Regions from separate parts of the Homo sapiens genome. Here all the other regions are linked to region 1. The links come from fine-mapping of genetic effects on gene expression. A gene starts in region 1. Each other region holds a variant in brackets. All regions are shown on one strand. Distances are from middle to middle. Region 1 holds the start of PNRC1 (proline rich nuclear receptor coactivator 1). Region 2 has its middle 8.0 kb from the start of SRSF12. Region 3 has its middle 33 kb from the start of PNRC1-DT. Region 4 holds the start of SRSF12 (serine and arginine rich splicing factor 12).

What was found.
Region 2: its variant is fine-mapped to the expression of PNRC1 in whole blood (INTERVAL, PIP 0.97).
Region 3: its variant is fine-mapped to the expression of PNRC1 in whole blood (TOPMed, PIP above 0.99).
Region 4: its variant is fine-mapped to the expression of PNRC1 in whole blood (INTERVAL, PIP 0.97).

What each region holds. Positions count from the first base shown.
Region 1 is chr6:89,077,850-89,083,454 of GRCh38, reverse strand. It overlaps PNRC1 (proline rich nuclear receptor coactivator 1), which reads right to left and starts at 2,704. Exons shown (of 2, transcript NM_006813.3): 1 at 2,021-2,704. The coding sequence starts at 2,560. It overlaps PNRC1-DT (PNRC1 divergent transcript), which reads left to right and starts at 2,875. Exons shown (of 1, transcript NR_187250.1): 1 at 2,875-3,293. RefSeq lists enhancers at 1,031-1,991, 3,510-3,599 and silencers at 1,900-2,279, 2,670-2,819, 2,870-3,079.
Region 2 is chr6:89,123,281-89,128,885 of GRCh38, reverse strand. It overlaps a transcript of PM20D2 not described here. Among named protein-coding and RNA genes, the nearest start is that of SRSF12, 8.0 kb to the right of the region's middle. RefSeq lists a silencer at 202-496 and an enhancer at 202-496. The variant C/T (reference allele first, on the strand shown) is at 3,474.
Region 3 is chr6:89,045,218-89,050,822 of GRCh38, reverse strand. No RefSeq gene overlaps it. Among named protein-coding and RNA genes, the nearest start is that of PNRC1-DT, 33 kb to the left of the region's middle. The variant A/G (reference allele first, on the strand shown) is at 3,211.
Region 4 is chr6:89,113,310-89,118,914 of GRCh38, reverse strand. SRSF12 (serine and arginine rich splicing factor 12) reads left to right here and starts at 844. Exons shown (of 5, transcript NM_080743.5): 1 at 844-1,092. The coding sequence starts at 1,028. It also overlaps a transcript of PM20D2 not described here. RefSeq lists a silencer at 991-1,260. The variant A/G (reference allele first, on the strand shown) is at 3,268.

The DNA of each region.
Region 1 (5,605 bases):
GGGGTTGAGAGAGAGATGGGGACCTACTGGGTACTATGCTCACTACCTGGAATGGGATCATTCATACTCCAAACCTCAGCATCACGAAATATACCCATGTAGCAAACCTGCACAAGTACCTCCTTGATCTAAAATAAAAGCTGAAAATTACAAAAACTTTAATTGGGCATGGTGGCTCACGCCTGTAATCCCAGCACTTTGGGAGGTCAAGGCAAGCAGATCGCTCAAGCTCAAGGAGTTCGAGACCAGCCTGGGCAACATAGCGAAACCCCATGTCTACTACAAATATAAAAATCAGCCCGGCGTGGTAACACGCGCCTCGGGAGGCTGGCTGAGGCGGGATCCCTTCAGCCTGGGAAGGGGAGGATGCAGTGAGCAGAGATCGATCGTGCCACTGCATTCCAGCCTGGAGTGCGATAGAGGCAGACTCTGTCTCAAGAAAAAAAAAACAACAAAAAACTTAAATTTCCCTTGACTTTTAAGTTCACTCTTGTTCGCCACTAAAAATGCAGTTAATCACCACTGCTAGTTACCAGTATGCAACGTGAACCAGTTCTAAAATGTCAAACTAAAAAAAGTCTGAAATAACCCAAGTCCACCTTTCTACAACTGTAAGGAAGACTAATGAGCTCTCTTCCAAATACGAGTGCCAGAAACAATCTTTGCTGTGTACCTCCTTTCTGGTTTAGTAACTGCTTCAAGAACGCTGCTTCACTCACCTTAATCTTTCCCAACTTAAGTGGGCCTTATAGGAAGTCTTGAAAGGATGGAAAAGCGTAAGGTAATCCACTAGATCACTGCACTACCAACACTTGTAACGCGGTAGTAAGCAAGACACGACACGAAAGAGGACCACAACTTTCCACGTCAATAAGGTTCACTGCCAGAGCTCCCTAGTTAGTACCTGTTCTAGAAAACAGGCCAGGAAACAAGCACAAAAGCTTTTAGGTAATCACGGATATTTCAAAAGTCGTGGAATTTTAAAAGGGAGACATTGAGACGATAATTTAAAGAAACAAGGTGGGCAAATTTTTTCCCAAGGGCACAGATAAACCGCAAATCTCTAATTCAATGCAACATTCTTCACTAAATAACGGGAACTTTTTCATTTCATTATTACGAAGATTAAGTCATTGAACTTAAGTCCATAAAACGTTATTCTGACAAGACTTTGAAATCATTTCGTAGACTTAATCCTATTTAAACTTCTATCCATTTTATCCTAATGCAATAGCACTGCAATCAGACGGGCTAAGTCAATTCAATTGCTAACTCTTCTGAAAACTTACTCTGGACACACTAACACGAAGTACCACAGTGGCAAAAGTAATAAAATCAGTTTTGTGCGGCTCCTGCCAACTCTTAACTTGGAACCACTAAGTAGGTCAGGCCCGAGGCGGGCAGAGCCCCAACTGGACTGCGCGTCCCACACCGGGCACCTCACATTTTGGCACAACTCCAACCAAACGAAACCCAGCCGCTCGGAGCCCACTCCACCCCCTACGGCGGGACGTTAGAGGCCGTCTCCGCGTTTCACCGACTAGGACTGGGGCTCCCGATAGCCGGGAGGCCGAAAGCCGGGCCCAGTCCTTCCCCAGCTGCCCCCACCCGGCCTCGCCTCCTTCATGGGCGCCGGAGCGCCGGGCACGTAGCGCGCGCTGACGTCAGCCCTCCCGCGGGCCCTGTCCCTGCCCCCACCCCGCCGCGCGCCCGGAACGCCGAAACCCCCTGGAACGCCGCCAGCCTTCTAAATCGGGGCTGTTGCTGGGGCGCAGCGGCGCTTCTCATTGGCCGACTCCTGGGAGCCAATCAGAAGCGCCAGCGCATGCCTCCCCTTCCCCCTTCTTCCCCCAAAGCAAGAATGGAGCGGGCGTCACGGAAACTTCCCTCCCGAGTAAACAGCCGCCCCCCCCACCCCGCCCCCACCCGCCCGACCCCCCGGGTGCAGGGTCTGCAGCCCCAGAGCTCGGCCGCGACCGTCTAAGGGCCCGACTCCCCAACGGCCCCCTGGCGGCCTCACCTCTTTCCTGAGGGGGGTTTGGCCGGGAGCCGCGGGCCGCAGCGGGGCAAGGTCGGGGCTGGCTCCCTCCGTGCCGGCTGCGGCTGCAGGACTCGGGGCCAAGGCGGCGGCCGGGCCCGGGACCTCCTGCGCTCCGCTCGGGCCGGTCGCGGGGCTCCGGCCGCCCTCCAGACTCGGCCGGTGCTGCTGGTACTGGTGGAAGCGGCTGGGCAGCTGCCCTGCGGGGCTGGCCCGCACCTTCTTCTTTCGCCGCTTCTTCGGCGCTGCCCGAGGAGTGCCTCCCGCCACGGCGAGGCTGCGGTTGGGCAGAGCTGCTGGAGCGCGAGGCTGGGGGGTCAGACACGGGCCATCTCCCCCTAGGAAATGAGGGAGGAAGAGGGTCGGGGGCAGTGCCCGGGGGTCCGGGATCCGGGGTAAAGGAGGCGGAGCCGTGGTCACCATCGGGAGGGCCCCAAAGTAACCTCGGGAGGAAAAGCCAAGCGGCGCAAGGCGGCCACCCAGGACGAGCGGCTCCCGCTGCGGGACGGAGACGACAGTCATAGCGCTAGGAAGCTTGTCGCTCAGCAACGAAGAGAGAAGGAGAAGGTGAATGAAGCCAGTGAAGATAGGGTGGCGGCGATGGATGCTGCTAGGAGAGCCTGAGAAGATCGCGGAACATGACTCGGGCGGTGGCGGCGCAGCAACAAATAGCCACAGCCCCAGCTCCGAGTGTTGTTATCGGAAGCTCCGCCCCGCGCCCGCCCACTTTCCTGCGAAAGCCCAATTAGAGTGCGACAAGGCAGGCCACGCCCCCTCGCTCCGCCTCCGCAGCTTCGGGTAGACACACACAAACAACCAGCTTGCTGCAGCCTGGCACAAAGAGGGCGCACTGCGCAGGCGCTGCCAGCGAGCTCTTTTGGGAAGAATCGGTCCCGCGAACAATGAAATTGGGTTTCCGCCCCACCCTCTTTACTCCTCCCCAGCACGCCCCTGCGCTTCGCCGGGCTAGGGAGTGGTGGTACTGAAATGTCCCGGCGGAGTTTGTTGATGGGGGTGGGGAAGGGAGGGGGCAGGGGGAGGGCGGCAGGAAGAACGGGGGCTGGGAAGAGGGGATGACTTTGGCAAGGCCACGGTTGCCTCCTCCGCTGCTGACCTTGGGGAAGTATCCGTTTTATTTTCAGCCCAACATAACAGCGTTATCATTTTAAAACAAAGATTTCTAAGTACGCTGTAAGGATTTCTTCCCTAGCAATCGTGAAGAAAATCAGTCTACATTTAAATTTTATCTACTGAAGTATGGCTCACGATTCTTTCATTTACTTGGTTCGGCATCGCTGCTTATTAGTCTCGGTGATCAGAGTAAAAATCAAAGTGACTTACTGATTGAATTAGCCCCTCGATGTATAAAAAGTTCTCCGTAAATCCATAAATGGAAGTTGGAGTTTTTACTGATTTCATACTTGAAGGATTGTGAGACTTTGGGATCAGAACATTGTGCCTGGTTACTTGAGGAGGCGGCAAGCCGGCTTGCGTCTCAAAGGGAGAAAGTGAAACAGCTCTGCAACATAGAGTATTTTGTTAGCTGCGCGTAAATAGAAATTTTTCGCGATCTCCCCGCACTGCTCAACCACAAAAAAGAATTGTGGCCATAATTTATCAAGCATTTATGTTCCAGGAACTGTTCTTTACATAGATTGTCTCACTTTAACCTCACAACAACCCTTACGAATAGGTACTAAGAAAAATAGATCAGACCTCAGCTCTGCGAAGTAGGCAGGCTGTCATTCTCTTCCTTTCACTACTAATGCCTGGGGCAATTGTTTAAAGGCATTTTGTTCCTGATTAGCTGCCTACGCATTATCTTTAAGTTTCTGAAATTTAAGATACAAAGAACAATGTATAGCTAGTCAAGAGCCCACGATATTTTAATGTAAATTGGTAAACAATTTAGGAGCTGCCTCTTTTCCTTTAAAAACCTACTTGTAACTTGCTAATCCGAGTGTATATTCAGGGCAGCTTGAATCTATGGTCCTGGGTTGCAGTCCTCAAGCTTGGCCTGATTTTGCCTCAGCTTCTTTTTGGAGGGACAGTACTGTATTTTATTCCCATTTTACAGCTGGGGAAACAGGCTTAGAAAGGCTAAAGGACTTGTCAAAGATCAAACGGTAAGTTAACATCAGAATTTGATCTCCAGTCCAGGTACTGCAAGACAAAAGTTTTAATTTTTTTTTTTTTTTTTTTGAGACGGCGTGTCACTCTGTGGCCAGGCTGCAGTGCAGTGGCGCCATCTCGGCTTACTGCAACCTCCGTCTCCCTGGTTCAAGAGATTCTCCTGCCTCAGCCTCCCTAGTAGCTGGGATTACAGGCACCCGCCACGCCCAGCTAATTTCTGTATTTTTTAGTAGAGACGGGGTTTCACCTTGTTGGCCAGGATGGTCTTGATCTCCTGACCTCGTGATCCGCCTGCCTCGGCCTTCCAAAGTGCTGGGATTACAGGCGTGAGCCACCGCGTCCAGCCCTGCCACACTAGATTCTACATTATTAGAAGACCACAGTAATCTTACACTTCTGTATCCTCACCGCCTCTACAATAGTTTTCAGCTTTGGAGTAGTAAGCAATTAGTAAGCAATGAAACGTTTTATGATTGATGGCAAAGTTGGACAGATTGCATATCCAGAAAAATGCTTCCCAATCACTTTATAAACTTTTTTTTTTTTTTAGACGGGGTTTCTTTCTGACACTCAGATTGGAGTGCAATGGCATGATCTCGGATTACAGCAACAGCCGCCTCCCAGGCTCAAGAGATCCTCCAACCCCAGCCCCCCACGCCCCTGAGTAGCTGGGACCACAGGCACACACCACCACTCCTGGCTAATTTTTTGTGTTTTTAGTGGAGACAGGGTTTCACCATGTTGCCCAGGCCGGTCTCAAACTCCTGAGCTCAAGCCATCTGCCTGTCTCAGCCTCCCAAAGTGATGGGATTACAGGAGTGAGCCACCAAACCCAGTCAACCTTATAAGCTTTTAAAACTACATTTCAGGCCAGGCGTGGTGGCTCACACCTGTAATCCTAGCACTTTGGGAGGCCGAGGCGGCTGGATTACCTAAGGTCAGGAGTTTGAGACCAGCCTGGCCAACATGGCGAAACCCTGTCTCTACTAAAAATATAAAAATTAGCTGGGCATACAGGCTAATGTGCCTGTAATCCCAGCTACTAGGGGGGCTGAGGCAGGAGGATCGTTTAAACCTGGGAGGTAGAGGTTGCAGTGAGCCGAGATCATGCCACTGCACTCCAGCCTGGGCAACAGAGCAATACTCCATCTCAAAAAACAAAAAAGAAACCAAAAAAACTCCATTTCATTCCAATTGCTGAATTTTACTCATTTTTGTTTCTGCAACATGTAATGCATAGTAAGTGCTCATGTTCATTGGATGGATGGGAATCATGGACATCCAGAGCTGTAAAAGAATCTACTTTTTCAAAGCACTTTCCATCTGTCATCTCATTTTATTCTTACTCTAGCACTTTAAGGTTGATATAGAGAGGTCCTATTTAACGTATGGTGTAAATAAATTTAAATATATAGTAACTTGCTTGGGGGGGGG
Region 2 (5,605 bases), 45 kb before region 1:
ATATTGAGCATTTGAAAAGTGGCTCATGGGACTTATTGGAGGAACTCGCCCCCAATATTTCAACATAGGTTCTTTCTATTTTCCATAAGTGTCAGCTGGCTGAGAAATAAAGAGAAAGTACAAAGAGAGGAATTTTACAGCTGGGCCACCGGGGGTGGCATCACATATTGGTGGGACCATGATGCCCACCTGAGCCTCAAACCAGCAAGTTTTTTAATTAAGGGTTTCAAAAGGGGAGGGGGTGTAAGAACAGAGAGTAGGGACAAAGATCACATGCTTCAAAGGGCAAAAAGCAGAACAAAGATCACATGCTTCTGAGGGAACAGGACAAAGGGCAAAAGCAGAACTACTGATAAGGGTCCAACAAAGATGACAAGGCAAAGGGCAAAAGCAGAACTACTGATAAGGGTCTATGTTCAGCAGTGCACATATTGTCTTGATAAACATCTTAAACAACAGAAAACAGGGTTTGAGAGCAGAGAACTGATCTGACCACAAATTTACCAGGGTGGAGTTTTCTCCCCACCCTAATAAGCCTGAGGGTACTGCAGGAGACCAGGGCGTATCTCAGTCCTTATCTCAACTGCATAAGACAGAGACTCCCAGAGCAGCCGTTTATAGACCTCCCTCCAGGAATGCATTCCTTTCCAAGGGTATTAATATTAATATTCTTTGCTAGGAAAAGAATTTAGCAATATCTCTCCTACTTGCATGTCCATTTATAGGCTCTCTGCAAGAAGAAAAATATGGCTCTTTTTGCCTGACCCAGCAGGCAGTCAGACCTTATGGTTATCTTCTCTTGTTCCCTAAAAATTGCTGTTATTCTGTTCTTTTTCAAGGTGCACTGATTTCATATTGTTCAAACACACGTTTTACAATCAATTTGTACAGTTAACACAATTATCACACTGGTCCTGACGTGATGTACATCCTTAGCTTACGAAGGTAACAGGATTAAGAGATTAAAGACAGGCATAAAAATTATAAAAGTATTATTTGGGAATTGATAAATGTCCATGAAATCTTCACAATTTATGTTCCTCTGCTGCGGCTCCAGCCGGTCCCTCCATTTGGGGGTCCCTGACTTCCCACAACAGGACTAAATGAATTTAAAATTTTATTTTAAATTTAAATAGTCCCATGTGTTTAGTGGCCACAGTATTGGACAGTGCAGATATAGAACACTTCCATTATTACAGAAAGTTCTATTAACCAATGCTGAGCTAGGCTAGACTCAGTGTTTTTGGAAGAGCATTTCAGCTAGGTGCAGTGGCTCTGGCCTGTAATCCCAGCACTTTGGGAGGCTGAGATGGGTGAATCACCTGAGGTCATGAGTTTGAGACTAGCCTGGGCAACATGGTGAAACTCCATCTCTACCAAAAATCAAAATTAGCCAGGCTTGGCGGCACATGCCTGTAATCCAAGCTATTCGGGAGGCTGAGGCAGGAGAACTGCTTGAACCCGGGAGGCAGAGGTTGCAGTGAGCCAAAATCACACCACTGCACTCCAGCCTGGGCAAGAGAGTGACACTCCGTCTCAAAAAAAAAAAAAAAAGCATTTCACAGGTACTGATGTGAACTTCCTTCAGAAGAGCATATAATGGATGTTTCTCTTTGTATTAATTTAGCAGTCATTTATGGCCATTGCCTGGACCCACTACTTCATTAGGGGTTGCAAAATTATGACATTATAATTCTATCATCTCCTCTTTATTTTATTGACTGGAATACTTTTAGAAAAACAAAACAAAACAAAACTTCCTTCATCAACCATTTGGGTTACCCTGAGGAATAAATTTATACAGGAAAGTTAGGATCCAAAGGTGACCAATTAGGGTTGTTTTTTAGTATAATTATGAACTTGTGCACTTAAAAATATTTGATATGTTTTAATTCATTGCAGTTATTGTTCTTATTGCTACTCAAATTGTCTTATCTCTAGCCAGGATTGTCTTTGGAATCCTTTTCACATGACCCCAGAAGCTTTTGATAACTTTTTTCTGATATGACAAGATATTTTAGGTTCATTGTGTACATTTTTCCCTCAAGCATGGAATCAGCCACACTTCCAAAAAGTCATTGTTTATTTTAAGACAAAATTATATTTAGGGAGTATGGTCTGGGCCATAAGGGGTGCCAAATGGTACTGGGCTGGTCATTGTTTCTAAGCCTTTTCAGTGGACAATGCTAATAACTCCTTTTTTTTTTTTTTTTTTTTAGATGGAGTCTCGTTCTGTCACCCAGGCTGGAGTGCAGTGGCGCAATCTCAGCTCACTGCAACCTCCAAGTTCAAGCAATTCTCTGCCACCCGAGTAGCTGGGATTATAGGCGCCTGCCACCATGCCCAGCTAATTTTTGTATTTTTAGTAGAGATGGGGTTTCACCATCTTGGCCAGGCTGGTCTTGAACTCTTGACCTTGTGATCCACCCGCCTCGGTCTCCCAAAGTGCTAGGATTACAGGCGTGAGCCACCATGCCAGGCCTTTTTTTTTTAAGACAGGTCTTTCTATGTCCCTCAGCCTGGAATGCCGTGGTGCAATCATGGCTCACTGCAGTCTTAACTTCACAGGCTCAAGTGATCCTCCCACCTCAGCCTCCCCAGTAGCTGGGACTACAGATGCGTGTCACCACACCTGGCTAACTTTTTAATTTTTTGTAGAGACGGGGTCTCACTTTGTTGCCCAGGTTGGTCTCCAACTTCTGGGCTCAAGCCATCCTCCTGCCTTGGCCTCCCAAAGTGCTGATACTACAGGCATGAGACACCATGCCCAGCCAAGAAATACTTTACTTTTTTTTTTTTTGAGACAGAGTTTCACTCTGTCGCCCCGGCTGCATTGTAGTGGCATGATCTCAGCTAACTGCAACCTCCACCTCCCAGGTTCAAGTGATTTTCCTGTCTCAGCCTCTCAAGTAGCTGGGGCTACAGGCACCCACCCCAATGCCCAACTAATTTTTGTATTTTTACTAGAGATGGGGTTTTGCCATGTTGGCCAGGCTGGTCTCGGACTCCTGACCTCAAGTGATCCGCCTGTCTGGGCCTCCCACAGTGCTGGGAATACAGGCATGAGCCACTGTGCCTGGCTGAGAATTTTTTTTTTTTTTTGAGACAGAGTTTTGCTGTTGTTGCCCAGGCTAGAGTGCAATGGTGCGACCTTGGCTCACTGCAACGTCCGCCTACTGGGCTCAAGAGACTCTCCTGCCTCAGCCTCCCGAGTAGCTGGGATTACAGGCACCCGCCACCACGCCCGGCTAATTTTTTTGTATTTTTAGTAGAGACGGGGTTTCACCATTTTGGTCAGGCTGGTCTTGAACTCTTGACCTCTGGTAATCCACCTGCCTTGGCCTCCCAAAGTTCTGAGGTTACAGGCATGAGCCACTGCACCCAGCTGAGAAATGGTTTTTTTTTTGAGACGGAGTCTCGCTCTGTCACCCAGGCTGGAGTGCAGTGGCGCGGTCTCGGCTCACTGCAACCTC[C/T]GCCTCCCAGGTTCACGCCATTCTCCTGCCTCAGTCTCCTGAGTAGCTGGGACTACAGGCGCCTGCCACCACACCCAGCTAATTTTTTGTATTTTTAGTAGAGACGGAGTTTCACCGTGTTAGCCAGGATGGTCTCGATCTCCTGACCTCGTGATCCGCCCACCTCGGCCTGCCAAAGTGCTGGGATTACAGGCGTGAGCTACCGCGCCCGGTGAGAAATACTTTTTAAAAGAGAAAATATATCACACACAAGACCCTTTTAACTGATCTGCTTGTACCAGTCTCTACTGTTCCAATTCATCCTCCACATTTTTGTCAGAATATCCTTATTAAACACAAATCTGATCTTAATCTCCTGCTTAAAAAATCTTGATGGGGCCAGGTACAGTGGGGTTACATACCTGTAACCCCAGCATTTTGGAAGGCTGAGGCAGGAGGATCACTTGAGGCCAGGAGTGTGAGACCAGCCTGGAAACATAGCAAGACCTACCTCTATAAAAAATTTAAAAATTAGCAGGGCATGGTGGTACACACTTGTAGCACCAGCAACTTGGGAAGCTGAAGTGGGAGGATTGCTTGAGTCCAGGAGGTTGGGGCTGCAGTGAGCCATGACTGCACCACTGCACTCCAGCCTGGGCAACAAAGCAAGACCCCGAATTGAAAAAAAAAAAAAAAACAACAACAGCAACAACAAAAACAACTTTGGCTCTAAATCTCCATTCCAATCTCTTTAGCATTCTTCCTTCCTTCTCCCCTAGTTCAGCAACACTACACTACTCTCACCACAAATGTCCCTTTGCTCATCGAGTTCACTTTGCTTTTTTTATTCCTGGGTGAATTTAATCCAATAAATAGCACAAACATTGATTTCCTCTAAAATAACTCCTAGTACTCCCCGCCAGAGAACTAATCTGTTTCCATTATATCCTCCATACTACTCCGAAATACCTTTATGTGGCACTAATGAAACAATATTATAATGACTTATTTACATACGTGTCTATCTCTAGCAAGAACGTCTCTCAAAAATTAAAGATACTCACCAGTGGTGGTACTATTTAGTTTTATATGTTACACTGATGAGACATTAAATGTGGAATTGCATAGTGTGAGAGTTAAAACTACAGGCACACACCACCATACCCAGCTACTTTGTTTTTATTTTTATTAGAGATGAGGTTTCGTATGTTGCCCAGACTAGGCCCTTTCCATATTTACATTAGGGAGAAAGTTTTAGTTTTGTGCCAGTATGTCTTCAACATCTCTATATTGAGTGATTAATTTCCCTTTTATAAGAGAGAGCAGGCTTGGAGCCTGCGCAGACAAAAGTAATCGGCTGGAATTTCCAACATGGTTTTGTTTATTATTATTATTTTGAGACATGATCTTGCTTTATTGCCCAGGCTAGAGTGCAGTGGCACGAACACAGCTCACTTCAGTCTCAACCTCCTGGACTCAAGTGATCCTCCCACCTCAGCCTCCAGAGTAGCTGGGACTACAGGCACACTCCACCATGCCCAACTAATTTGTTTTTATTTTTACTAGAGATGAGTTATCATATGTTGCCCAGACTAGTCTTGAACTCCTGGCCTCAATCATCCTGCCTCAGCCTCCCAAAGCACGGGGATTACAGGCATGAGCCATTGTGCCTGGCTCTCCTTCTGTCTATAAACCTTTTTTTTTTTTTTTTTTTGAGACAGTCTCACTCTGTTGCCTAGGCTGGAGTGCAGTGGCACGATCTCAGCTCACTGCAACCTCCACCTCTTGGGTTCATGAGATTCTTGTGCTCCAGCCTCCTGAGTAGCTGGGACTACAGGCACACACCACCATGCCCAGCTAATTTGTTTTTATTTTTATTAGAGATGAGGTATCGTATGTTGCCCAGACTAGTCTCAAACTCCTGCCCTTATGCAATCCTCCTGTCTCAGCCTCCCAAAGCACTGAGATTACAGGCATGAGCAACTGTGCCTGGCTCTCCTTCTGTCCATAAAACTTTAAAAATTAATATTGGTGATAGAGCTTTCTTTTTAAATAAAAGTGAGCTAATTTAAAGTAAACATATTATGGTAAAGAAGTACATCATTATGGCAAAAATCTCACAGGATGGATGAAAACGACTTAAGTTTGGGAAA
Region 3 (5,605 bases), 33 kb after region 1:
TGTCACCAACTTTTCCCCTTCTGAGAGCCAGCTCCTTCCACACACACCCAGCAGGCTGAGCTTCATTGTTTCTTCTTCAGCCTGGGCACTGAGACATGTTTGTTCATTAATGTACCTGAGCTTCTTAAGCTGTTGTCTCTCCTTCCTGAGAATGCATGATGTGTTTTCTTTTCCTCAACACCCCACTTTCTTGGGGTTTTGGTTTGTTTGTTTTTAGAAACAGGGTGTTGCTATGTTGCCCAGGCTGGTCTCAAACTCCTGGGCTCAAGCAATCCTCCCTTCTTGGTCTCCCAAAATGCTAGGATTTCAAGTGTCAATCCTTTTCTAGGATGTCTAGTCCACTTGCTTTTACCCAGGACAAACATACTCCCTCAGGGACTCACCTCTATCCAGTTTTCCTGCGCAAGGCTGCCAGCTGTTTCATACATTACTGGAAAATTGTGCAATTCTAAGCAAAGAGGCTGGAGGCTGGGATTCTGTGCCAATATTAGAATCTGGGGTTCCCGGAGGGCTGAGGGCTGTGTTGCAGAGAAGATTGTTGTCATTGTTGCAGCAACTATTGCTCTAGGACAGCAGTTTCAGAACGTGGTCAGAGAAACCCTGGGATCTCTGAGGTCCTCCCTTTTCCAATCACCTATCTGTATAAGGTCAGATTTCAACCAAAACACATCTCAATAGATTGAATGCAGATGTAGGTATGAGAATCCAGCTCCCTTCTGTCAAGAGATTTGCAAAAAATTAAAATTTTTGTTTTAATTTTAATACAATAAATATTGACATAACCCATGTAAAGAAAATGCCTTGGAGTCCCCAACAATTTCTAAAAGTTGTAAGGGGGTTCTGAGATTGAAAGTTTGAGAACTGCTACTCTAAGCTACTCTTGGCCCCACTTTGTTCTTCCCGCTCATCTTGAGGGACCTCATAAGACTCATTGCTTCAACTACCACGTCCAAGTTGGTGATTGTTGTGGGCAGTACATAAGCTTCTGCGTGCTGTTCTGCAAGCACCTGGGGATAAGGGAAATAAGATTGCCCCTGAGAATTGAACTGGATAAATCCATACACAGCAGATATGACCCACCATTCATGCATTCAACAAATATTTATTGAGCACGTACTCTGTGCCATACACTCTTCCAAACACTGGGCTTACAAAACAGAAAATCCCTGAACATCCTACTGGGGTATACTGAGAGACGATAAAAGAGTATAATGGGGTCCGGTTTGGTGGCTCATGCCTGTATTCTCAGCACTTTGGGAGGCTGAGATGGGAGGATTGCTTGGGGCCAGGAGTATAACACTATCCTGGGCAACAGAGTGAGACCCTGTCTACAAAAAATTTAGGAAAAAAAGAAAAAGAAATCAAAGTAATGTGACAAGAACTGTATGTATGCGTGAGTTTGTGTGTATATGCCTGTATTTTCTTTCTTTCTTCCATAAATTATTCCCCAATAGCCATTCTGCTAGTAGCCCTCCTGGGAAGTGGTGTTTACAAATTTCATCTTGGTAAGGAGGCAGATATGATGTAAGACAAGTTCCAGCCATGGAGGTGGGGTAAGGAAGAGAGCAAGGAGAGCAGATCTTAGGATTGGCAGCTCAGGGACAAGAGCACAGCAGCATCTTTGCAGCACAGGTTGGCAACCATCCAGAGGAGAAAAGCATGGGCTATGAGCCACCATGAAGTCACTTAAGCACCACCCTTCAAACACCATCTTAAAGGATGAAAAGACAAAGGGAGAGAAACAGCTCTAATGGGGAGTTATTGGCTGGAATGAGAACTTAAGTCCGAAGAATGAGATACTTTTATTGGTAATTTTAAGTTCCATTTCAAACATTTTATTTGCATGTCTGAGATGTAGTGTGATAAAATTTCAATCTGGCTGCATTAACGTTTTACTGCTGCTGGACTGTATCTGAAGCCTTGAGGCAGGGAACTCAGGCAAAAATGGCTCTATTAGACTCTTCCTTCCCATTCAATCTAAACCCAAGTGTTACCACCCAGATGACCACATGGGAGAAAGGAGACTGAAAAGAAGACCCCAGGAGGCAATGAAAACAGGATGCAGGTCTTTTTCTCCTGAAGGAAACAGTTCCCATCCTCTTTGCCACTTAGGCTACCTGGAAGGGAAAAGCAGAAGAGTGAAGAACTGGTCACTGATCACATGCAGCCTGCATTCAAGAAAGAAGACAGGGCTAGAGAGGGAAATAAAGGGCGGGTCTTTTTCTGAGGGTGCCAGAAAATTCTGGCCTTCCGAGAAGATGAAGAAAGACAACCCCTCTCATGTGGCCCAATCAGTGTCCCTGGAATGACTCATCAGATTAGGGGCTCCTTCTTGGAGTGGGAATGAAGATAAGGATCAAGGAGGAAACTGGATGAATGCCTCTCCCATCATACCCAAACTCACAGCATCCCTAAAAGGCGTTTTAAATGGAGAAATTGAGACTCAAGGTAGAGAAAATAAAGTGAAGTCATACTCTAGGAGCAGAGCCAGGTTTTGAACCCAGATTTGACTTGTTGCAAAGTATAGCCAGTTCTTGCCAAACCCCAAGCTTCCCCACTCCCACTCCCCATCAGAACCTGTTTGGTTTTTTTGAGACAGTCTCGCTCTATCACTTAGGCTGGAGTGCAGTGGTGGGATCACAACTCACTGCAGCCTCGAACTCCCAGGCTCAAGCGATCCTCTCACTTCAGCCTCTTAGGTAGCTGGGACTACAGGTACATGCCACCACACCCAGCTAATTTTTTTATTTTTTGTGGAGATGGGGTCTCGCCTTGTTGCCCAGGCTGGTCTTGAACTCCTGAGCTCCAGCGATCTGCCCACCTCAACCTCCCAAAGTATTAACGATTACAGGCGTGAGCCACCTGGCCCAGCCCAGAACCTGTTTTATTTAGTGGAGGCAATCTTTCTTGCATCTTGCAGTCTTGTGTCTTTTCCTACCCTGGGATATAAGGTGAAATTCCTTGTCTAGAAGAACCACGGCTGTAGCAATTATTCATCCATCCAGCAAATATTTATTGAGCGTGAGGGGTGAGGTCTGTCCTCAGTTCTGGGTCATGAAATCACTTTTATGATTATTTCAGTTTCCTGAAATGTGATAAGCAGCTAAATGGATCCAGCCATAGGAGGAGAACTGATTGAAAAGTGAGGAAGTAGAGGATGAGAGGACAAAGACCAACATTTAAAAGCCCTAAAGTAGCTGAGGTTCCTCA[A/G]TGAGGGTAGGACAGGAACTGTGTTGTTTACACAAAATGAGATGGTGTCAGTGAAGCTTTTCTTGGGGGTGGGGGAGAGTGTGTGCACATACTCCGTTTTTCCCTGATCGTTTTCTGTGCTGATGGAATCCTGTTCCATGGATAGATTGTGCTTTTATTTTTAAATTCATTTTTTGAAGCTGATTGGCAGTTTGTAATCTTTCCAGCCTTTTCCTGAGCAATTCTAATCACCTTTCAACTTTTTTTGAGGTACCATACAAAGCAATCTAATTGTTGACATAAACCAATGTTGGCTATACGATTAACCCTAGCACAGAGTTGATTTATCTACTCTGGTTTATCCTTAGCAAAATTTAAATCCCAAACCTACAACAGTTTCAAACTACTCTCCTTCAGCCTTCTATTAATGTAAGTTCGGGTAGTACTAACTTAAATGTAGTTTGCATGATAAATCTGTTCTCTAAGATTACATGTTTTCCAAACCAAGTATGCTTAACTTTTAGATCATCTAGGAGAAAATAGAGCACAATAATAAATAGCAGGGGCCCCGAACTTCACCGTCTAGTTGAAGCCCCAGTGACTGCATTTATTAGCTCTGTGACCTCGGCAGAAGCATTGAACTTTTCTCTGCTTTTTCTTATATATAAAATGGGGATAATAAACAGCTTCTTTTCCAGAGTTGAGAGGGGAATCAATGAGTCAGTACTACTCAGTAGGAAATAAATGTAACTTAGTAAATGTCAGTTTATTTTTTATTTATTAATTTTTTTTCAGGCCAAGCATGGTGGCTGTAATGCCAGCACTTTGGGAGGCCAAGGTGGGTGGATCGCTTGAGACCAGGAATTCAAGACCAGCCTGGGCAACATACTGAGACCCTGTTTCTATTTTTAAAAAATTTATGAAAAAATTAAAATAATTTTTTTCTTTCTCTTTTTTTTTTTTTTTTTTTGAGACAGGGTCTTGCTCTGTAGCCCAGGTTGGAGTGCAGTGGCATGATCACGGCTGACTACAGCCTCGACCTCCTGGGCTTTAGTGATCCTCCCACCTCAGCCTCTCGAATAGCTGAGACTACAGGCATGAGCTGCCGTGCCCAGCCTAATGCCGGTTTTCACCATTATTAGTTTTTAAGTTTCTTTCCCTCTGTTGCCTTCTTTTTGAACAATTAAAGCCATTTATTTCGTTTAAAAAAACCTGATTAAAGAACTAATACTTATTGATTCTCTATTAATTATTGGTGAAAGATGCAGAGCAGACATAAAAAGACTAAACAATAAAAACTACCCCTTAATCCTAGGCCTAAGAAATATAACCACTTTTAAAACAACTTTCAAGAAATCTGGCCGGGCATGGTGGCTCATGCCTGTAATCCCAGCACTTTGGGACGCCAAGGTGGGCTGATCACTTGAGGTCAGGAGTTCGAAACCAGCCTGGCCAATGTGGCAAAACCCTGTCTCTACCAAAAATACAAAAATTAGCCGGGCGTGGTGGCAGGCGCCTGTAATCCCAGCTACTCAGGAGGCTGAGGCAGGAGAATCGCTTGAACCTGGGAGACAGAGGTTGCAGTGAGCTGAGATCGCACCACTGTGCACTCCAGCCTGGGTGACAGAGTGAGATTCTGTCAAAAAAAAAAAAAAAGAAAAAAAAGAAAATAAATCTATTTACTAGACTTTCTAAGAAATGTCTGAAATGTTGATTATTTGACTTACAGAAAGAAAAAACATTTGTACCAATGTGCTATTTCTCTCCTCTCGACTGTTTCGGTAGGAATTTGTGTATGAGTAAACAAATTTCTAGTCATCACATAAAATTTTCTTTGCCAAGAAAGATTAATGAATCATCCTCAGTATCCACTCTTGTCTCCTCTGACACAGCCTCAGAGGAACCCACCATCATACTTTTCCATCTCCATGGCTTCACGTCCTCATTTGAAGAACAGGGACAGCGAGAACTTGATGGCACTTCTGGTCCATGTTTCTCACACAGGGACACAAAAGCCTAGGAAGAAGCCGTAATTGCTGGAGCTGGGATTAGAGGCCAATACACTTCCCCCACCTTTTTTTTTTTTTTTTGAGATAGAGTCTTGCTCTGTCACTCAGGCTGGAGTGCAATGGTGTGATCTTAGCTCACTGCAACCTCTGCCTCCTGGGTCAAGTGATTCTCCTGCCTCAGCCTCCCGAGTAGCTGGGATTACAGGCATGAGCCATCACACCTGGCTAATTTTTGAATTTTTAGTAGAAACAGTGTTTCACCATGTTGGCCAGGCTGGTCTTGAACTCCTGACCTCAAGTGATCTGCCCTCCTGGGTCTCCCAAAGTACTGGGATTACAGGCTGAGCCACTGCGCCCAGCCAGGCCAGTCTGCTTCCCACCACACTGTGCAACCGTGCCAGGCTGAG
Region 4 (5,605 bases), 35 kb before region 1:
ATGGGCTACAACATTTTGGGGGAATAGGGAGAGGGTAATTTAAATTTTGCTTAACTGTCCCTGCATTTAAACTGTTGTCTTCTACATCATGTATTCATTTGTACATTCGTTTGTCCCCCCTCTAGAATGTAAGCTCAGAGGGCGGGGCTTGGCCTGTTTGTTCATTGCTATATCCCACGCTAAGTGCCTGGCGCATAGTAGACGCTCAATAAACATCTGAATGAATGTACTCACAGCTGAGTGTTATGCCCCAAGTGAATAAAGGATGAAGAATCATATAATACTTAAAAATCCAACAGGCCAGGCGCGGTGGCTCACACCTGTAATCCCAGCACTTTGGAAGGCCGAGGCGGGAGAGGCTTGAGCCCAGGAGTTTGAGACCACCTGGGCAACACAGCGAGACCCCGTCTCTATTAAAAAAACAAATCCGAACAAAACCGAGACCTCACAGTTGGAAAGCCGAAGGCTCAAGACCAGAGGGGCAGGAGGCCTACCAACTGCCAAGGTCCTGCGCTCAGGACGATGCGCTGAGGGCCGCGGAGGCTGAGCGGGGGCGCGGTTGAAAGCGGCTCTCACTGACCCCACCTCCGCCCAGCCGCAGCCCCGCCACCACCTCTGGGTCCTCTAACCCCCGGCGTCCCCGCCGCGGCCTCAAGCCCCCTCTTGGCCTCCGCCCTCCTGACATACACTGGCCCTCGCCGCCCCCTCCCCAAATCCCGTCGCACTCCAGGACCCCCCATACCCGGATCCCATAGGGCCTGGGAACGGCCGCGCTCCTGTCTTCGGAATTCCCGCGGCCCCTGGGCCGCGCCGGCGCCGCCCCCGCCCCCGGCCCGTGCGTCCAGGCTGGCGCCGCGCTGCGCCCCCTCTGCGCCGGCCTCTGCGGCTGCGCGCTGGCGGGGCTGAGGCCGAGGGGTGGGGGTCGCGCCGGGGGCCGGCGGAGCTCCTGTGGTGGTAGCAGCGGTAGCGGGAGACGGAGCGAGTCCAGCGGCCGCGGGCAGACCCGGAGGGAACGGAGGAAGCGGTCATGTCTCGCTACACGAGGCCCCCCAACACCTCCCTGTTCATCAGGAACGTCGCGGACGCCACCAGGTGAACGGCCGCGGCTGCAGGTTGGGGGCGCGGAGGAGGGGCGGGGTAACAGCCGCGCCGCGGAGCACGGCCGAGGCCCGGCGGAGGCTCGGGGGAGCTGCGCGGAGCCTCCCCGCGGGCCCAGGCTGCGCCACTTGGGGAGGTGTGAGCCCTCGGACTACTCCGCGGCCCAGGGCGGAACTCGCGCCTCCGCCCTCCCGGCCAGCTTTCAGCCCCGGCGCCGCGCACATCGTGTCCCGGGCCCGCGTCGCTTTCCGCGGTTCAGCACCGCAGCCGGCGGGCCGTGGGACACGGGGCGCCCCTCTCCCGAGCTCAGGTCGCTCCCCGCCGGGAGTCGGGAGGGTTTGCGCTCCAGCGAGTGCCCGCGTTTCAGCTCCTTTGTCGCCGTGCCCCGATAAAATCGCGCGCATCCAACCCTCCTAGATGGAGAGGAATTGGGGCTGGTGAGAACGTTTTGTACCATAATGCGTACTCGGGCCTTACAGTTTCTTTCCCCCAGTTCTGGTCTACTTACAGACGGTGCTGCTTGCATTTTATTCACACAATTTTATTCTGCATACAAAAAATAACTTCAATGAATGAGATCAGTGCGTTTTTCTTTAAAGTTCTGAGTCCAGTATTAACACCCTTTTTAAGGGCGTGAGTATAGGCTCACCTGGTTGATTCTGATGCCCCACCCCTCCGTTGAGAATTTTGTCTACAGAGTGTCTGAACACAGATACTAAGGAATGACTTTTTCATATAGCACTTCCTTCCTTAATGGAGCTGAAGAAATTGGGGGCGGGGGGAGAGGGAACGGTGTTAATAGACATTCTCATTTCACTGGGCTTCATTTACTTCCCCCCAGCCTTTCTACCTATGCAGTACTGTTTTATTGTACATAAGGGAGAGCGGAAACTAAGAGTTTTAATGATTTACCTGGGGCCAGAGAGGTATAGATACATGGAGCTCTTGACTCCATAGTCATCTGAGATGAGTATTATAATTTACCTTTGAGGAGTAAATAAACGTTAAGTATTTTTTATTTTTTAGTTTTTTTTTTTTTTTTAGACAAAGTCTCGCTCTTGTCCCCCAGGCTGGAGTACAATGGCCCGATCTTGGTTGGCTGCAACCTCTGCCTCCCGGGTTCAAGCGATTCTCCTGCCTCAGCATCCAAAGTAGATGGGATTACAGGCGTGTGCCACCACACCCGGCTAATTTTTATATTTTTAGTAGAGATGAGGTTTCATTATGTTGGCCAGGCTGATCTCCAACTCCTGACCTCAAGTGATCCGCCCAGCTCGGCCTCCCAAAGCGCTGAGATTACAGGCATGAGCCACCGTGCCCGGCCAAGTATTTTTTATTTGATCACCGCAAGTACATGTATCACAACTATATGTTGTGGTTAATATATCTTAGTTAACATCTAAAAGGTGCCTTGTTTACATTTCTTCTGTCAGCCTTTTTATCAATATATTACATAGAAAACACGAACATAATTTATGATTTGGGCAGAATTAAAAAACCTTGCAGTTGAACAGACAACTTGAAAATGGAATAAGCATCAAGCCTCTTCAGGGTGTCTGTAGAAAAATCAGAGGTTTCCAATTCTAATGGTTCACAGGGGCCAGCCGGGGTAATATAAACGAGTGAAGCTGCCAGCCTATAAGGCACAGTAGGATGGTGTGGACTATCAAATAGAAATAGAATAGCAAATAGAAAAGGAAATATGCCATCTAAAAGGTGCAGCATCTGCCTCTAGGCTCCAGCTGACAGCTGCCATGTAGACATCTGGACTTATTGTTGATATATCTTACTAGTTGTAAAGAGAAATCAGAAATCTGGATTTTGTATGTGTAATCTTAGTCTTTAGATGCATTAAGTTGAATCATATGAAAATCCCATTCGTGGCCGGGTGCGGTGGCTCATGCCTGTAATCACAGCACTTTGGGAGGCTGAGGCAGGCGGATCACGAGGTCAGGAGATGGAAACCATCCTGGCTAGCACGATGAAACCCCGTCTCTACTAAAAATAAAAAAATTAGACGGGCGTGGTGGCGGGTGCCTGTAGTCCCAGCTGCTCAGGAGGCTGAGGCAGGATAATGGTGTGAACCCGGGAGGCGGAGCTTGCAGTGAGCCAACATCGCGCCACTGCACTCCAGCCTGGGAGACAGAGCGAGGACTCCGTCTCAAAAAA[A/G]AAAAAAAAAAAAAAAGAAAGAAAAAAGAAAACCCCATTTGTAGATTTGAAAGCTGTAAAATATAAGGCTGGGCGCGGTGGCTCACGCCTGTAATCCCAGCACTTTAGGAGACCGAGTTCGGCGGATCACTTGAGGTGAGGGGTTCGAGACCAACCTGGCCTACCTGGTGAAACCCCGTCTGTACTAAAACACAAAAATTAGCCAGGTGTGGTGGCTGGCGCCTGTAATCCCAGCTACTCAGGAGACTGAGGCACGAGAATCGCTTGAACCCCAGAGGTGGAGGTTGGCAGTGAGCCGAGATCAGGCCACTGCACTCCAGCCTGGGCGACAGAGTGAGACTCTGTCTCAAAAAATAAATAAATAAAAGAAAGCTATAAAATGTAGCCTGGTGTATGACACCTGTAGTCCCAATTACTGGGAAAGCTGAGGTGGGAGCCCGGGAGGTCACTTGAGCCCGGGAGGTCAAGGTTACAGTGAACGATGATCACATCACTGTACTCCAGCCTGGGTGACAGAGAGACCTTTAGAGAGTCTAAAAAAATAAAAGCTGTGGCCGGGCGTGGTGGCTCACGCCTATAATCCCAGCACTTTGGGAGGCCGAGGTGGGCAGATCACGAAATTAGGAGTTTGAGACCAGCCTGGCCAACATGGTAAAACACCGTCTCTACTAAAGATACAAAAAATTCACCAGGCATGGTGGTGCGTGCCTGTGATCCCAGCTACTCGGGAGGCGGAGACAGGAGAATCGCTTGAACCCGGGAGGTGGAGGTTGCAGTGAGCCGAGATAGTACCATTGCACTCCAGCCTGGGCGACAGGGCGAGACTCTGTCTCAAAAACTAAAAAAATAAAAGCAGTAAAATATTGGCAATTTCATATTTATACGCATTTTAAAAATGTTTAAACGTCATGCAGGCCAAATAAAACACATCTGCAGGTGACACCTGATCTCTGATCTATGTACTTCATTCACCAGTGAGTGATTGAGACTGATAGTTGAGATTGACTGATTTCCTTTTCCATTTTTTCACTTTTTTTTTTTTTTAGCTTTGCCACTGGCAGACAATCAAAATCTACAAGATTATATTACATGAATGAAATCTCTAACATTTGTTGAATACTCACTGTGTACTAGGTGCCATACTAAAAACATTACATATATTAAATTTTCGCAGTAACCCTATAATGTATGGTGGTTTTTTTGTTTGTTTGTTTTATTTTGAGACAGAGTCTTGCTGTGTCAGCCAGGCTGGAGTGCAGTGGCACGATCTCGGCTCACTGCAACCTCCGCCTCCTGGGCTCAAGCAGTTCTCCTGCCTCAGCCTCCCGAGTAGCTGGGATTACAGATGTGTGCCACCATGCCTGGCTAATTTTTGTATTTTTAGTAGAGACGGGGTTTCATCATGTTGGCCAGGCTGGTCTCGAACTCTTGATGTCAGGTAATCCGCCCACCTTGGCCTCCCAAAGCACTGGGATTACAGGCATGAGCCACTGCGCCTGGCCGTATGTTCTTTGTTAACCCCATTTTACCGATGAGAAATCAACGTTTAGGTTAAGTATTTTGCCTAAGATCGAATAGCAGGTGAGTGATGATATGAAATTAGAATCATCACATGTAATCTGTATTAACCTTTTAGTACAAAGTAGTATACAGTATAAGTTAACTAGCAATGTGACATGTAGACACTTTTAAAATTAGCTTTAAAGATAGGGCACAGTGGCTCATGCCTGTAATCCCAGCACATTTGGAGGCTGAGGTGGGTAGATCACTTAAGCTCAGGAGTTTGAAACCAGCCAGGGAAACATAGCAAAACCCTGTCTCACCAAAAAATACAAAAATTAGCCAGGTGTGGTAGTGCGCACCTGTAGTTCAGCTATTTGAGAGGCTGACGTGGGAGGATCGCCTGAGCCCAGGTGGTCGAGGCTGCAGTGAGTCAAGATGGCACCACTGCACTCCGGGGGTGAGAGTGAGACTCTGTCTCAAAAATAAATAAATAAATAGGCTTTAACATTTAGTATGCTTATAAACAAAATCTTTGGGGCCTGGCACGGTGGCTCACATCTATAATCCCAGCACTTTGGGAGGCCGAGGCACGTGGATCACTTGAGGTCAGGAGTTCGAGATGAGCCTGGCTAACATAGTGAAGCTCCATCTCTACTAATAATAGAAAAAATTGGGCTGGGTGCGGTGGCTCACGCCTATAATCCCAGCACTTTGGGAGGCCAAAGTGGGCGGATCACGAGGTCAGGAGTTCGAGACCAGCCTGGCCAATATGGTGAAACCCTGTGTCTACTAAAAATATAAAAATTAGCTGGGCGTGGTGGCACTCGCCTGTAGT